Linked DNA regions of Homo sapiens. The protein of the gene in region 2 purifies or fractionates together with the protein of the main gene of each other region. This does not show direct contact. Each region holds a gene or a part of one and is shown on either strand. Other genes may lie near its edges.

Region 1 (7,691 bases), on a different chromosome or scaffold from region 2:
TTTGTTCTTTCTAACAACATAGCTCTGATCATGTCATATCCTTCCTCAAAACCTTTATGGCATTTTCATTAACTATTAGAATTCCTGTCCTAGTTTCGAGGCCTCTTCACCACCTGGCCCCATCCTACATTTTTGGTTCTATCCTCTAACATTTCCTTTTATACCCCCTGACCCTGGCGTTCCAGCCACATTGAACTTGCTGTCTTGAGGAGATGTCCTTGTCTCAGTGGCATTGCTCATACTTGGAATTGTTCTTTTCCACACCTCTCAGGCTCCAAATCTTCATCTTTTGAGTTCCTGTTCAAATGCTCCCATCTCTGTTGCAGGTCCCTGCAACCCCTGACTGTAACTCTCCTTAACTTCCATGATTCTTTCTCGGAGCTCTTGTCACATTCATTGCTTTATGCTTTTTGTTTTTTGGGTACATGATGTATTTAACTTCATGTTCTGAGTCCTAGGGAGTTCTTCCTAAGCACTTAGCAAATATGTGTTGTAGGCAATTAGTAGCTATATATGATCAGTAGACTCCACGGGGGAATAATAAGCGGATTAAGAGTTGACAGGTCCCTAGGGACTGAGAGTGCGGGGAAAGCACAGGCGTAAAGCAGGTGTCTTAACACTGGCTTTAGAAGATCTAGAAAACTAGTAACCAAGAGCTTTTAACATGGTTCTTGTTAAGATGTGAAGAGGTAAGATAACTAATTTGAGTGGCTATTGTATGCCAGTCACCGGTCTAGGTATTTTATGTATATTCACTCATTTGAACTCTGGCCAGATGACATTCTTCCCTTCTGTAATATTACCCCTTGACCTCTTTTTTTTTTTTTTTTTTTTTTTTTTTGGAGATGGAGTTTTCGCTTTTGTTGCCCAGGCTAGAGTGCAACGATGCAATCTCGGCTCACGGTAACCTCCGCCTCCCGGGTTCAAGCAATTCTCCTGCCTCAGCTTCCGGAGTAGCTGGGATTACAGGCATGCACCACCATGCCCGGCTAATTTTGTATTTTTAGTGGAGACGGGGTTTCTTCATGTTGGTCAGGCTCATCTTAAACTCCTGACTTATGGTGATCTGCCCGCCTTGGCCTCCCAAAGTGCTAGGATTACAGGCATGAGCCACTGTGCCCAGCCCCGTTGACTTCTTGTTACACTTAGAATAAAATACAAAGTCAGGTGGTGGCTCGCGCATTTAATCCCAGGACTTCGGGAGGCCGGGGCAGGAGGATCACTTGAGCCTGAGAGTTCAAGACCAGTCTGGGCAACATAGTGACACACCCCATCTCTAATTAAAAAAAACAAAACAAGACTCCATAAGTAGCCCTACGGGACCCCAGACTCACACTGTACGACTTCCTCACCTTTCCATCTTCTCTGACCAGCTCCTTACCTCTGCTCCCTCCTCTAAAGCTTTTTGCCCATGAATCCCAAATTTATGTTTTTTCATTTCAGCTTTAAAACCCTACCCTGTTATGATAACAATAATGGAGTACATTGCCCTTGTGTGGTTCTTCATACTTTTTTTTTTTTTTTTGAGATGGAGTTTCGCTCTTGTTGCCCAGGCTGGAGTGCAATGGTGCCATCTCAGCTCACTGCCATCTCCGCCCCCCACTGGGTTCAAGCGATTCTCCTGCCTTGGCCTCCGGAGCAGCTGGGATTACAGGCACACACTAACATGTCCAGCTAATTTTTCTATTTTTAGCAGAGATGGGGTTTCACCACGTTGGCCAAACTGGTCTCAAACTCCTGACCTCAGGTGATCCATCTGCCTCGGCCTCCTAAAGTGCTAGGATTACAGGCCACCATGCCCAGCTCTTCATAATTTTTCAAAGCACATTCTTCTTATTTCGTTTGATCCTATTTCAGTCCACAATTTTCCACATACCTTTTCTCAAAAATAAGAGTATAGAAGAGTTGGGTGCAGTGGCTCACACCTGTAATCCCAGCACTTTGGGAGTCTGAGGCAGGCGGATCACTTGAGACCAGCCTGGCTAATATGGTGAAACGCTGTCTCTAATAAAAATACAAAAAATTAGCCAGGTGTGGTGGCAGGTGTCTGTAATCGCAGCTACAGGCTCCTACTGAGGCGGGAGAATCACTTGAACCTGGGTGGTGGAGGTTGCGGTGAGCCGAGCTTGCGCCACTGCACTCCAGCCTGGGCGACAGTGCGAAACTCCATCTCAAAAAAAAAAAAAAAAAAGTATAGAGGGATTGAAATGCCAAGAAAACTTGACAGTTTATCAAATAACATCTTTGCCATAAATCTTAATGCCAGTTGTGGGACTGGCCTGTGGCTCCTTTAAGCCTTGGAGTTGTAACAGAAAGTTTTCTTCAGATAGTTTTGTTAATCACACTGTTTAAAATGTGCTATGAAATTTCTTGGATCTTTGGAGAGAAACAAGATACTGTTATAATAATTACTGTGGAGATGTCACTGGAAAGGGGATCCAGACCCCAAGAGAGGGTTCTTGGACCTCGTGCAAGAAATAATTCAGATTGAGTCCATAGAGTAAAGTGAGTGTAAGTTTATTAAGTAAAGAAACAAAAGAATGGTTACTCCATAGGCAGAGCAGTAGCTTGGACTGCTCGACTGATAATACTATAATTATTTATTCATTATATGCTAAACAAGGGGTGGATTATTCATGAGTTTTCCAGGAAAGGGGTGGGCAATTCCCGGAAATGAGAGTTCCTCCCCATTTCAGGCCATATAGGGTAACTACCTGACGTTGCCATGGCATTTGTAAATTGTCATGGCGCTGGTGGGAGTGTCTTTTAGCATGCATGCTAATGTATTATAACTAGTGCATAATGAGAAATAAGGACAGCCAGAGCTCACTTTTGTCACCATCTTGGTTTTGATGGGTTTTGGCCGGCGTCTTTACCATCACCTGTTTTATCGGCATGGTCTTTGCGACCTGTACCTTGCACCGACCTCCTATCTCATCCTGTGACTTAGAAGGCCTAACCTCCTGGAAGTGCAGCCCAGTGGGTCTTAGCCACATTTTACCAAGCCCCTGTTCATAATGGAGTCGCTTTGGTTCAGATGCCTTTGACGGAGAAGGTAACTTTTCACTATATATTCTTTGTACAGTTCAGGTGTTTGGTTAAACACATGCTTGTAGTATCTGTTTAAATTAGTTATATGTATATGTATACTCTGGGAAGTGGCTCTTCTCATTATTACAATTTTTTTCGAAAAGCAATCAGCTTTTATTTGACAATTTGGAAAATACAGGAAGAAAAAAAGTTATTCCGGCCAGGCACGGTGCCTCACGCCTATAATCCTAGCACTTTGGGAGGCCGAGGCGGGTGGATCACGAGATCAGGAGTTCAAGACCAGCCTGACCAAGACGGTGAAACCCCATCTCTACTAAAAATACAAAAATTAGCCGGGTGTGGTGGCAGGCACTTGTAACCCCAGCTACTCGAGAGGCTGAGGCAGGAGAATCGCTTGAACCTGGCAGGTGGAGGTTGTAGTGAGCCGAGATCGTGCCACTACACTCCAGCCTGGGTGACAGAGTGAGACTCCGTCTCAAAAAAAAAAGAAAAAAAGTTACTTCGAATCCTACAATAATCCTGAAATAACCAATTGGGATTGTCATTTAAAAATGAACTTTTTTTTTTCTTCCCCTGAGACAGGGTCTCACTCTTTCACCCAGGCTGGAGGGCAGTGGCACGATCTCAGCTCACTGGAACCTCTGCCTCCCTGGTTGAAGTGATTCTCCTGCCTCAGCCTCCTGAATAGCTGGGATTACAGGCATCCACCACCATGCCCAACTAATTTGCATTTTAAGAAATAGGGTTTCACCATGTTGGCCAGGCTGGTCTCGAACTCCTAATCTCAAGTAATCCACCCACCTTGGCTTCCCAAAGTGGTGGGATTACAGGTGTGAGCCACCGTGCCGGGCCAAAAATAAACTCTTGAATGGATGTTCTGTAAAACATTTACACTTCCTTTAAACAGGTATTTCCAAGTATGTGGATTTTTGTTTATTTGGTTTTGAGGGAAGGTCTTACTATGTTGCTCAGGTTGGAGTGCAGTGGCGCATCAGCTCACTGTAGCCTCAAACTCCTGGGCTCAGGCGATCCTCCCACCTCAGCCTCCTGAGTAGCTGGGACTACAGGCATGCACCACTGTGCCTGGCTCATTTTCTTGTTTGTTGAGATGGGGTCTCACTGTGTTGCCCAGGCTTGTCTTGAACTCCTGGGCTCAACTGATCTTCCCACCTCAGCCTCCCAAAGTGCTGGGATTACAGACATGAGCCACTGTGTTCAACCCAAATATGATTTTTGTGGTAGGATATGCCATTAGTTAGTGTTGTTAGTAAGAGGCTTTTCTCTGTGTATCTTCACTCCATTTGAGAAGAGTAAAACATAGAACTGTGCCATAAGTTTCTGAACTTAGAATAGTAAAGAAGTAACAAGCCAGTCTTGGCCTGGCCCAGTGATGCGCACCTGTAGGCCCAGCTACTTGGAAGGCAGAGGTGGGAGGATTGCTTGAGCCCAGGAGTTTGAGGCCAGCCTGGGCAATATAGACACCTTGTCTCTCAGCAGACAACAACCCAGTCTTAGCTGGTGCCTCACTTAAACTCTGCAATCCTTGCTACCCCAGCCCCATCAAAGTTAATATGTGTGTGTATTGTCCAGCAGTGACAGGAAGAATAAAGGAAATAGAAATGAAGAGGTAGAATGATCAGGATTTTGCAGTTGGTTGAGTGTGCAGGATAAAGATGGTAAACTCAGATGATCAAGTTTCGTATATGGACAGGAGACTTGTAGAGGTTAGGTTTTGGAACCTAAATTCCTGGATTCAAATCCCATCTCTACAGCTTGGTAGTTGTTTGTTCCTGGGCAGTGTTTTTTAACCTCTGAGCCTCAGTTTGCTATGTATAACATGGGAATAATTTAGTACCCACTTCGTTAGGTTATTGCAGGGCTTAAGAGAGATTCCACATAAAGCACTTAGCATAGTGCCTGAATGTTTTTCATTAATTATTAATAGCGAGGCCATTTTTTAAATTAGAGAACAAATAAGGAGGGCAGAAGTGGGAGATGTTAAAGAAGGTGATTGTCATTTAGAGGAGCTGAGTTTAAAGTAGCCAAGGGCAGTACTCAGAAGACAGGACTACTGGCCTGGCCTGGCCTGGCCTGGCCTGGAAAGGGTTATTGCAGAAGGATGATCCTGGATCCACTATGTAGCTTTGCATTCATTCTCTGAAACTGCTTCCTAGATGGCTTCAAAGCTCTCAAAGCTCCACTAGTTTGAACCTGTAAAATGTTTGATTAACTGAGACAACTTGGGTTGCTTACCTTTAGCTCTAGAGTGTAGCTGACTCACTGGAAAGTTTTTGTGCTTTTTCAACCACTGGCGCCAGGGCTGATGCCTGTGTTTGTGTGTGTTGTTCACTGCTCTATGGTGCCTGGGCCAGGGGGAATGAGGTAAAATCCTGCTGTTGTCTTCACTCCAAGCCTTGTGCACTTGGCTGCAACTGAATGGGCTGGCAGCATTTCTGCCTTGGGAATGTTTATCTGCTCCCTCCATGGGTGGGGCTTAGTGTTGAGAGTCAAGCCACTGAAGAAGTTGCCTGTGGCCAGCCTGACTCCATGTGGTCAGTGTAATTTTCTATTATAAGGATTGCATCCTGGGGTTACTTAAATTCTTTTTTTTTTTTTTTTTTCTTGTTGCAGATCATCAATGCTGTGGTACTGTTGATTTTATTGAGTGCCCTGGCTGATCCGGATCAGTATAACTTTTCAAGTTCTGAACTGGGAGGTGACTTTGAGTTCATGGATGATGCCAGTAAGTAGTAGATATTTGGGTATTTTCAAGGGCAGGGAATCTGACTGCCAGCACTTCCTATTAAATTACAAATATAGACTCGTGAGTTCATTTGAGCTGATATATAACTTGTCATTGCAAATCAACGAATATTTGTGTGCGTCTAACATTCTGTCTTCTAGGTGCAAGAGTCTAAATAAGATCTATTTTCATCTTATGTTAACTTACCCACTTAAAAATGATTGCATTATCATAGACTTTCTACCCTGGGCCTTTTGGCCTTTTTTGAGAGGAAGGGGTATAAATGCCAGGAAGGAAGGTGAAAAGGCTTGTGCTTATCTCCTTGTGTCTTCTATTATGTTTCAGTATTTATTTTTATTCTAGGAGTGATCCTTTTCCATTCTAGAAATGATGTTGCAGATTATTTGGGGGAATTTAGGGCCTTTTCCCAGTGAATGGAAATATGTACAGGGATGTGGATGTGGGGTAAGCAGGGAGGAAGCTAGGCTCCCAGCTTGAAGATCACTGCAGCCTCATCATTTTATAATCATTATGCCGAGTCCATGCCAAAGGAGAGGAGTAGTGCTGTGCATAATCTCCAGCAGAAGATAGTACAGATTTATTTCTCATTGGCTTCGGAGAACTTCAAGTGAGTTTTTCTTAAAAAGTGTTGGAGCAAAGTAAGAGAGGAGAGAGTGGCTCAACATGCAGTTTTAGAGATCGGAAGCATTCGAAAGACATGGTGAGGGCTCTTTGTTTCTCCAAGTAAGAAAAAGCTGTTCAGTGGTTTTAACTAAATGCATGAACTGATATATGCATTTAAGATCCCTTTTGCTGCTGAGTAGGGTACTGGGTGTGTGAGCACAGAGCCTGGGAGAGTGGTATTGGGGATACCACCTAGGCTGCACTGGGGATAGAGAACAGGGAAGGATTTGGCAACTTGCTGTTTTGGGCAGCGAAGGAGACGGAGGAATCAAAGATGACTTCTGCTTTCCAGTTTTAGGAGATGACCTGCATCTTAACTGAGCTGAGAAAGTCCGGAGTCAGGAGGTGGGAACAGACCTGGGGGAGAAAAATAGACTTTAATTTCAGTAACTAGCTGAGCACAGTTGTTTGGAATTGATATGGTTTGGCTGTGTCCCCACCCAAATCTCGAATTGTATCTCCTAGAATTCCCCTGTATTGTGGGAGGGACCCAGGGGGAGGTAATTGAATTGTGGGAGCTGCTCTTTCCCTTGCTATTCTTGTGATAGTGAGTAAGTCTCATGAGATTGAGGCCGAGGCTGGCAGATCAGCTGAGGCCAGGAGTTCGAGACCAGCCTGGCCAAGGTGACAATACCTCATCTCTACTAAAAATAGAAAAATTAGCCCAGTGTGGTGGTGAGTGCCTGTAATCCCAGCTACTTGGGAGGCTGAGGCAGGAGAATTGCTTGAACCCCAGGTGGCGGAGGTTGCAGTGAGCCGAGATCGCGCCAGTGCACTTCAGCCTGGGCAACAGGTCACTTTTGCTTTTTCTTCATTCTGTCTTGTCACCGCCATGTAAGAAGTCCCTTTCACCCTTTGCCATGATTCTGAGGCCTCCCCAGCCATGTGGAACTGTAAGTCCAGTTAAACCTCTTTTTCTTCCCAGTCTCGGGTATGTCTTTATCAGCAGCATGAAAACAGACTAATACAGGTGTAGGCTCCGAAGCCAGAAGAGGTCAGTTTGAGTTCTGACACCGCCGTGTGTTGAAGATGCTAAACTTGAGCTAGTGACTTATCATTGTGTGCCTCAATTTCCCCCTCTGCAAGATAGGAGTGACTTTATAACCACATGATTTAAACGATAGAAAGTAATTACAGACTGGCCACGGTGGCTCACACCTGTAATCCCAGCATTTTGGGAGCCTGGGAGGGTGGTGGGGATCACTTGAGATCA
Region 2 (7,954 bases):
TCTTAAAACAAACTCAAAATGAGATGAGATGGTGACTTATGAATGACTTCGTGGGGAAGGAAGAGGGACTTGGGGCGGTTGTCAGAGATTGGGGTGGAGGACCCAGGGGTTTGGGGTGAGGGAAGGGAGGAGAAGGGTGGGGGTGATAGGAAGGGAGGGCTGGTGGAGACAGGAGGGGAAGGGTGGGGAGAACGGGAGGGGAAGGGTGAGGGTGATAGGAAGGGAGGGCTGGGGAGGACAGGAGGGGAAGGGTGGGGGATCAGAGGGGAAGGATGACGGGGATCGGAAGGGAAGGGTGGTGGGATCGGAGGGGAAGGGTGGGGAGAATGGGAAGGGAAAGGTGGGGGTGATAGGAAAGGAGGGGTGGGCTAACAGGAGGGGAAGGATTGGGGGACGGGAGGGGTAGTGGGGACGGGAGCTGGAGAAGGGGAAGGGGCTTGCCAGTGATGATGGTGGTCGGTGGGGTGACAGGGTTTTTGGGGTGAGGCTGGGAGGGGCTGGGGACGCGTGCTGTGGGACTCAGGGCTGACGGTAGGGAGGGGCCTGGTGGGGACAGAGGCGGGTAGGAGGGGCTCTGCAGAGTGCAGATGATGCGGAGGAGGCGGTGAGGGTGGGGCGGGGCTTGGAATCAGGATGACAAAGGACCGGGAGTGAGGAGACCAATGGCTTGGTGGGGAGAGTGGGGTGTTGGGAGTTTGGGCAGATGCTGGTCGGGCTTTGAGTCAGGATGAGGGGGCTTGGGTAGTGGCTGGAGGACGATGAGGTGATGAGGTCGATATTGTGTCATGACGATGGCGCAGGTGACCAATGGATGGGTGACTGTGAGTTGTGTGTGGGTGACTGATGTGACTGACTGTAGATGACGAAGGTGATGATGACTTAGAAATAAACACCTGGAGCAAGGTAAACACGGCAGGCAATGCTCAATAAAGCTAAGAGTATAGATTCTTATCCAAATAATCTAAGAAGCAAAATATTCCTATCTGGTACCCAAGGGCTGTTTAGCTGTCCAACCCCAAAAGCTGAAAAGCTAAACAGAGCTCTGTCCCATTTCTTTCTATTTTTGCAAAAAAGATAGATGCTCTTTGTTAAAAAAAAAAAAAAAGTCAAATTCAAAATTCAGAAGCTGGCTAGGTCTTTTGAGATCTGAGGATTATTAACTCAGCAACACAAATGTAAACCCATGGCTGTGTGGGCCAGGTCTTGGACCACATTTGCCACAAAACTAGTAAGCGCCCCACAAGTGACAATTTCCACTAATCCCTGTGAAAACCTTGGTGAGGGCTGTGTTGCTGCTCAGATTCTGCCAGGGGCACTTGCGGCTCAAAGTACATTCAAGTCTCAAGGGATGTCTCTATAGGGTAGAGGCAGGTATAGTGTTGGGGTTCTGGGTGGGCAAAGAGGGGTGGGGGAGGGCTGGCTGCCTAAGTGGCAACTCCAGATGGCACATTATGACTCAAAGGGGCTATTTTTTCCCAAAAGGGAAGTGGGCCAGGAGGCTCCCCACTTTGAGAAACACAGTTAGGATAAATTTCAACATCAAGCGTTCATCCAGGATAGGCCAAAACCTTTCGGATCCCAGGATGAGAATTCGTCTTCATCAGATCCCAATTGTTGGGGTCAGGAAGTGTTTTGGTTCATACCCCCTCGTTCCTAATTCAGAGTTTTAGAGCCAGAGAGGACCATGGTGGTCGGTGTTCAAACCCCTCCCTCGAGAGGGGCGAGAAAGTGGGCCCAGGATTGGGATAGGGACTCGCCAAGGATCACACAGCGAGTTAGTGGCAGGGCTGGCACAGAGGCCCGGCCCCCCAGCAGCCAACCTGGGGCTCTCTCTGACTGACACACAGCCGCTGCACTCCGCTAAATCTCAAATCAATCGGAAAGATCTAAAGGTAGCGATGTTGAGCTGGATGTGAGTGCGAGTCGGATGTGGTGTGTGAGAATTAACGAACGAAAGCAATCGTAGCTCTTTGCACAGTGGGTGGTCATGTACAGCACTCGTAACGGTTTCACGAGGACCATGTGGCCGAGACCCCCAGGGTAGGGGCGTCGGCACTGAGCCCTGGTTCTGTTGCCTTGTTTTTTTTTGGTCTTTTTTGAAATTTCATTTGAGTTTAGATTTTAGAATAACATACTTATTTCTCTTACTCATTTAAAGATGAAATTCTTATTATTATTCTGTATCATGCATTAAGAGAGAGAAAGAGGATTGTTTTTGCATTGCGTTTGTCACACAGCAGCACAAAGACAATATATGTAAGCGTAGCGTTCACCAGATTTGACACAAGAGATAGCGAACACCACAAAGATTAGGACAGACCGCGTATAGTAAGCTCTGCGGAACTCCAAGAATCTAGAGGGGGCTGTGGGAACGCTGCTTAGATCTCCTCGTCGCCGGCCTCCTTGCTGAAGGTGGTCATGTCGATCTTCTCGGGGAAGATGATGTTGACGGCCAGGTCCTCCCCGCTGTTGTACTGAAGCAGCAGGTTCTTCTTCTTCCGCAGCATGTGGTTGTAGCGCAGGTTGGACACCCAGGTCTCGCACTTGTTGAGGAAGACGATACCCACAGTGCCCAGCACCACCAGGCTGGTGAGCACGCCCAGGATGGTGAAGCAGATGGCCTGGCCCTCGGTGAGGAGAGGGGTTTTCTTGTTGAGCTCTTTCATGGACACCTTCAGGATGCGGTGCTCCGGCTGCTGCACCGGCAGCTCGTGCACCCCAGGGGTCAGGCGGTAGGCCAGCCCATAGCCGCTGGGCAGACGGGTGACCTGCTGGGGGCTCAGCGCGCGCTTCTTGACACAGGTGAGACCTGTGAACTCGGGCTTGCACAGACACTCGTAGCTCACCTGGGTGTGCTGCAGGCAGGTGCCCCCGTTCTGGCACGGGCTGCTGGCGCAGTTGGTCACCGGGCGGCTGCAGGTCTTGTCGATGAAGCCGGCTGGGCACCGGCAGCGGAAGTCGCCCCCAATGTCAGTGCAGACGCCGTCGTTCTCGCATGGGTTGGGGGTGCAGCTGTTGGCCACGATCTCGCAGAAATTGCCTGAGAAGCCAGGGGGGCACAGGCAGGAGGCATGGGAGGCCCGGCCCTCATCATCCACGCAGGTGCCTCCGTGCTGGCAGGGGGAGCTGCAACACAACAGGGACATAGTAAACGGCCTCAGGGGCTAGGCTACAACAGCGCTGCAGGGCACGGGGCTCAGGGCAGAAGGTCCCTGGCCTGACTAAGGGGCAGGTGCTTAAAACACATCAGGTGAATGAGGGAGCGAGGGAGGGAACGCCAGCCAGGGAGGCACAGAGAGGTGCCCGGGGCCGTGACCCCTGTCTGCGAGAAGCTCACCAGTAGCTCTGGGGGTGGGTGGGTGGGTGCCCACCTCACCCCCATCTCGATGCTAACCTGGGACACACCCGACCTCCCATGCCAGGATGCCCACGTCCTCTCCCACCTCTTACTGCACCTCTCCAACCAGAGGTTAGTCTCCAACCGGTTAGTCACTAGCCAACTGGGGAAACTGAGGCTAGGAGAGGAAAAGTCAGTGACAGCCCAGGACTGGAGCAAGCCCCCTTCCCTTAGCTCCATCCCTGGACTGCTGGGGCAGAAGAACCAAGCAAGGGGCGCCCCTCACTCTATCCCGGGACCCGCTGTCGTCCTTCATGCCTATGTCCACTGTTGCCGCCAACCCTCATTATTATTATTATTATTATTAGCGGTGTGGATCCACAGGCTATTGTGCAGGAAGCGCTTGGGGACTCTCAAAGAGAAAGCAATACGAGGTCTGTCTACGGTGGCACAAGCCAGCGTCTGTACCAGGCTGTTTAATAGTGGTCCATTCACCCAAGTGCAGCTTGCAAACCAAAGCTGTTTGCTCAAAGTGGAGTACAAGGAGCATTTAATGTAAGTGCTTTTAAACGAGCGAGCCCTTTGTCATCCGATAAATGGCAAAACTCCGGGGAAGAAGGGGCAGTAAACACAAGAAATCAGCACTGCTGCTTCAGGGTGTGGGCTGCATGGGAGCTGGGCTCTGAAGGAATTTCAAGGGCCTTAGGCTCTATTTTGACACACTGGTTTAAGTCCATTCGCGAGAAAAGCAAAATATTTTAAAGGTCTCGCTCTGTTTTTCTCCTTCCTGCTAATAAGCAGAAATGGAGTTCAGTCTTCACCAGCCCCCACTCTGACCCCGTCTGAAGACTGATCTTTGGAAGCCCCGTTAATGTCTGTTTACAGCTCTTACAGACTACTGGGGTCTCTGTGCCACCCTGCGATGTCCGGTCAAGATAAGCTTATTTGCATGTTAGCTTCTGTTTCTTCAGAGGAAAGGGACACCCCTGCCCCCCAACTACAGGCCCAGGACTGGGTTCAAGTTTGGATTCTTACATTCGGACCCTGCCTCTGTCAAGATCTCCCTTGGCTTCAGGCTAAGCCCCATCCAGCGGGGAGGGATGGCTCAGGGCCGCCAAAGAGATAATGGGTGGGCAGAGGCTGAGCTGCTGGGAAGCATTGTTCAGGGAGGTCCAAGTGAAGACAGTGGCCACTCTGTCTGTTATGTCCGCTGCCCAGGAGTCCCAAAGCCCCCTTCCCCACTGAGGATAGCCGACAGCTGGCCCACCTCCTCTCGTGCTGGCAGAAGCCCAATCTCTTCACCTCTCAGCCTGGCAACTCCCTCCACAGACATCCCAGAAAATCCAATTGCAGAGCCCACCAGTTCCCCAAAACCACCCCCTGAGATACAGCAAGTGGGTTTCACAAACAGCCTCAGCCCCGCGGAGCTCCAATCTTTTACTACGTTGCCTTTAGAAAATTACGCAGCTCCGAGTGTCAGTTCATCATTCCGATCGACTGTCACTCACACGCATCGGGACTTGAGAACATCAGGGGAATATGAAATCGCCTTCAGGATCATTTGAAAAAATTATGGCAATGACACATTCCCCCGTGAATACTCCCATCCAGGGCGGTCCCCTACGGGGCTGCCAGGATGAGCGCTTACTTCATCTTTTGTCAGACGACAGGTCCAGCAGGGTTAGGCTGAAAGGGTCTTTGGTGGCCGCATGAAAAGCAGCATTCATTAGATCACACACAGGAAGGATATTTACCCGTTGATCACACAGGGCCCGTCCTTTTTCTGGCAGTCCTTTCCCGAGTACCCGGGGGCACAGGAGCATTCATAGAGGCCATCGTCCAGGCTCACGCAGGTCCTGTTGTTGGCACAGGGGGCCGAGGAGCAGGCCCGAACATCTGCGGGGTGACGGGGAAGACGAGAACTTAGCTTCCTCTCCATACACGAGCGTGATGCGGGCCCCAGTGGGCTTTAAAATGGCTCTATGGCCACCGAGTGGGGTCTGGAGTAAGAGGGTTTAGGGAGCCCCCTCAAAAAAACCCATGAAGTGAGTAAGCTGAGGCTCAGGAAGCTGAAGGGGTTTCCTTGCCTAAGGTCACAGATCAGAAAGTCGTGGCCACTGATATTCAGGCCAGGATAGCTGTTCCCTTTGCCTGGCACCAGGTCACCCCATATCCAGCGACATGTCCGTGACGTTCACTGTGGACATCATGCCCCTCCCTGCAACAGCGTGCCTAGCTGAGATTCCCTAAGGCCTGTCTCCACCAGACAAGACTGCATCTCCACCCTCTCCTGTTAGGGGAGGGGTCCTGGCCAGCCGGGGGATGAATACAGCCCAACCCTCAGAAAAACCACCAGCTCTTCATACTTTTCCATCAAAGAGGGGCAGTGGGGGGGATGGAGATGTAACGACCCCCCTCCGTCAGGAATCAAGAAACCTGTTAACCCCAGCACTACCACGTGTCCCTGTGGTCTCTCTTTCTGCACTCAGGCTCTGAACTCAAGGGGTCCCTGGTAAAAAGGCTTCATCTTTTAAAGCCAGGGAAATTAGAACTATTGAGCGCTCTCCTATCAGCACAGGTTTCCATGAGCACTGGTATATTCCCACCATCTTTTAACACCTTCCATCACGCACACTTCATTATTCAGGTTCAGCAAGCCAGGGATGAGCTGAACACAAGGGCCTGAGTCAGGGGCTCTCTGATGATGGAGACCCCAGCTCCCCAGTGGGGCCAGGAAGGGACCCCTGTCCTGCCCTGTATCCGGCCTGCTGCCATGTGGCAGCAGAGTTCAGCTCCTACCCATTCTGGGCCTCAGTTTCCCTACTTATAAAAAGAGGGTCTTTCCCTGGCCAATCTCTGAGGGACTCTTCAGCTTTGATTTTCTATAATTTGAGCTGCTGTACCTGCCAAACAGAAAGCCAGGGCCAGTGAGAGACACAGCAAGCTAAGGCAGGCTGGAGGGGGTGGGGGGAGGGGAAATCCCCCGTGCTGAGGCCACACATGTGCGTATTTTTTCCCCCTCTCAGAGAGACCCACACCCTCGTGGAGGGGAGACTGCAATCAATCAAGGAGGAAGAGCCTGAACGTTGTGTTGATGGACTACCCCGTGGTGTTCCATGGAAGCCCGGCTTGGTGCAAGGACACATAAAGAGGATTTATCTTTACGGGACGGCACCGGCAAGGCATTAGCACGTGGCGCCTCCGCGTCAGGCTCCTTATTCTCTGCACCCGACTCTCCTGTCACTCAGAATCTTAAATTTAAGCTAAAAAGCTGGCGACCACCCCCAGCTTGTCCCTGCAGCTCTCCCTGCTATGCCAATCCTGGATCAGCCCTCCTGAGCCTCCAACCCCAAGACAGGGGTGAATTAAGCTGCTCTGAGGAAAAGGCTGCTTGGGGGTCTCTGCTGGGACAGCAGCTGTGGCCACGACAGCCTCAAAGATGGGCAAAAAGGGAGAGGGAGGGCTATGTCTTCTCTGGGACCCCAGACTCTCTGGCCATCCCCAAGCTGGCTGCCTTTGTCAACTTGGTGGGGAGGGGACATACCAAGGGCCCATGAGAAGGGAGGCATTTGTCCGGAAAATTTCAGCAAGGGTGTACGGCATTTAGATACCAAAAAGATGGGCTCCAAGCTAAAAGCCTAACCCTGATCCCAAATGGTGGCTTTGCTGGAATCCCCCAGATCCTCAAACGACTCAGAGCTGCTGCCGCTGCTTCTGTGAGGGGCAGCAGAGATGCTGGCCAGAGCATGAGTCAGCTGCGGGTAAACCTTGCACCATATTGCAGGGGCTGGAATTAAGGACCAGAGACAATTTGGGGTGGGAGGGAGCTCAGCTTCAGAACCACGGCTGCCCTGGCTGTACAGGGCAGGGGCCACAACAAAATGCTCTTAGGTGTTCCTTAAGGAAGGATGTTAGATGCAATCGAAGATAAAAATTAACTCTCTTTCTGGGGCTGGGGGAAAGGGTTGTAGCTGGCTTTTTGCCCAACTTCTTTCATATTCCTTAGCAGACACTTGTGCTTCTCTGATCCTCAGTTTCCCTATCTGTACCGTCTTTACTAATGTTGGGGACTGAGGGACAGGGGCCCTGAGGGCAGGCTGCTACACAGCTGGGAGTTTTTTTGTGGACTTCAGTTTGCTCAAACGTTAGGGCTGGTTTTGCCAAATGAAAATGGGCTTAGACGAACATTTCGCAGCCTGAAAATGCAGTGACAGCCAACTCTCAATTGCTTGGGGTAATGGAGGCAAAGATTGCATAAATTAATGAAATCAACAGATAACACCCATCTTCACTTTAACCCTTTCTCAGCTTTTCCCAACTGCAGCCTCCCCCTACACCTGACCCACTCAGTCCAGGCCCCCCAGCCCTGTCCTCCTGGCCCTGACTCAGCACCTGCCCCTCAACCACTGAGCAGTGCTGGCCACCCCCCACCCCGTTTGTTTGTTTGCAGCCTCTTTACAGTCTTGCGTGTGCTTTTCTAGGGAGTCTTAGCTCTGAGATCCCCAGAGCCCTGTCCATCACTGGGCTTCCATGACCTGGACAGGCAGCCTGGGGTCTGTGGTCCCACCGGCCCAGCTGTATGTGTATTTTGTGACTCTTTATTCAACAGGCAGCTCC

The links. Proteins that work in one complex are often made in the same cells at the same time.
Region 1: the proteins of DLK1 (region 2) and LAPTM4B purify together in Homo sapiens (affinity purification with mass spectrometry; 4 studies listed by BioGRID and IntAct, with this or other methods). This does not show direct contact.

Annotation. Positions count from the first base shown.
Region 1 is NC_000008.11:97,799,671-97,807,361, forward strand, and holds part of LAPTM4B (lysosomal-associated transmembrane protein 4B), read left to right. Parts: intron 1-5,682; coding exon 5,683-5,794; intron 5,795-7,691. UniProt on the Homo sapiens protein: Required for optimal lysosomal function. Blocks EGF-stimulated EGFR intraluminal sorting and degradation.
Region 2 is NC_000014.9:100,729,321-100,737,274, reverse strand, and holds part of DLK1 (protein delta homolog 1 isoform 1 preproprotein), read right to left. Parts: intron 5,234-7,954; coding exon 5,092-5,233; intron 3,127-5,091; coding exon 2,379-3,126; 3' UTR 1-2,378. UniProt on the Homo sapiens protein: May have a role in neuroendocrine differentiation.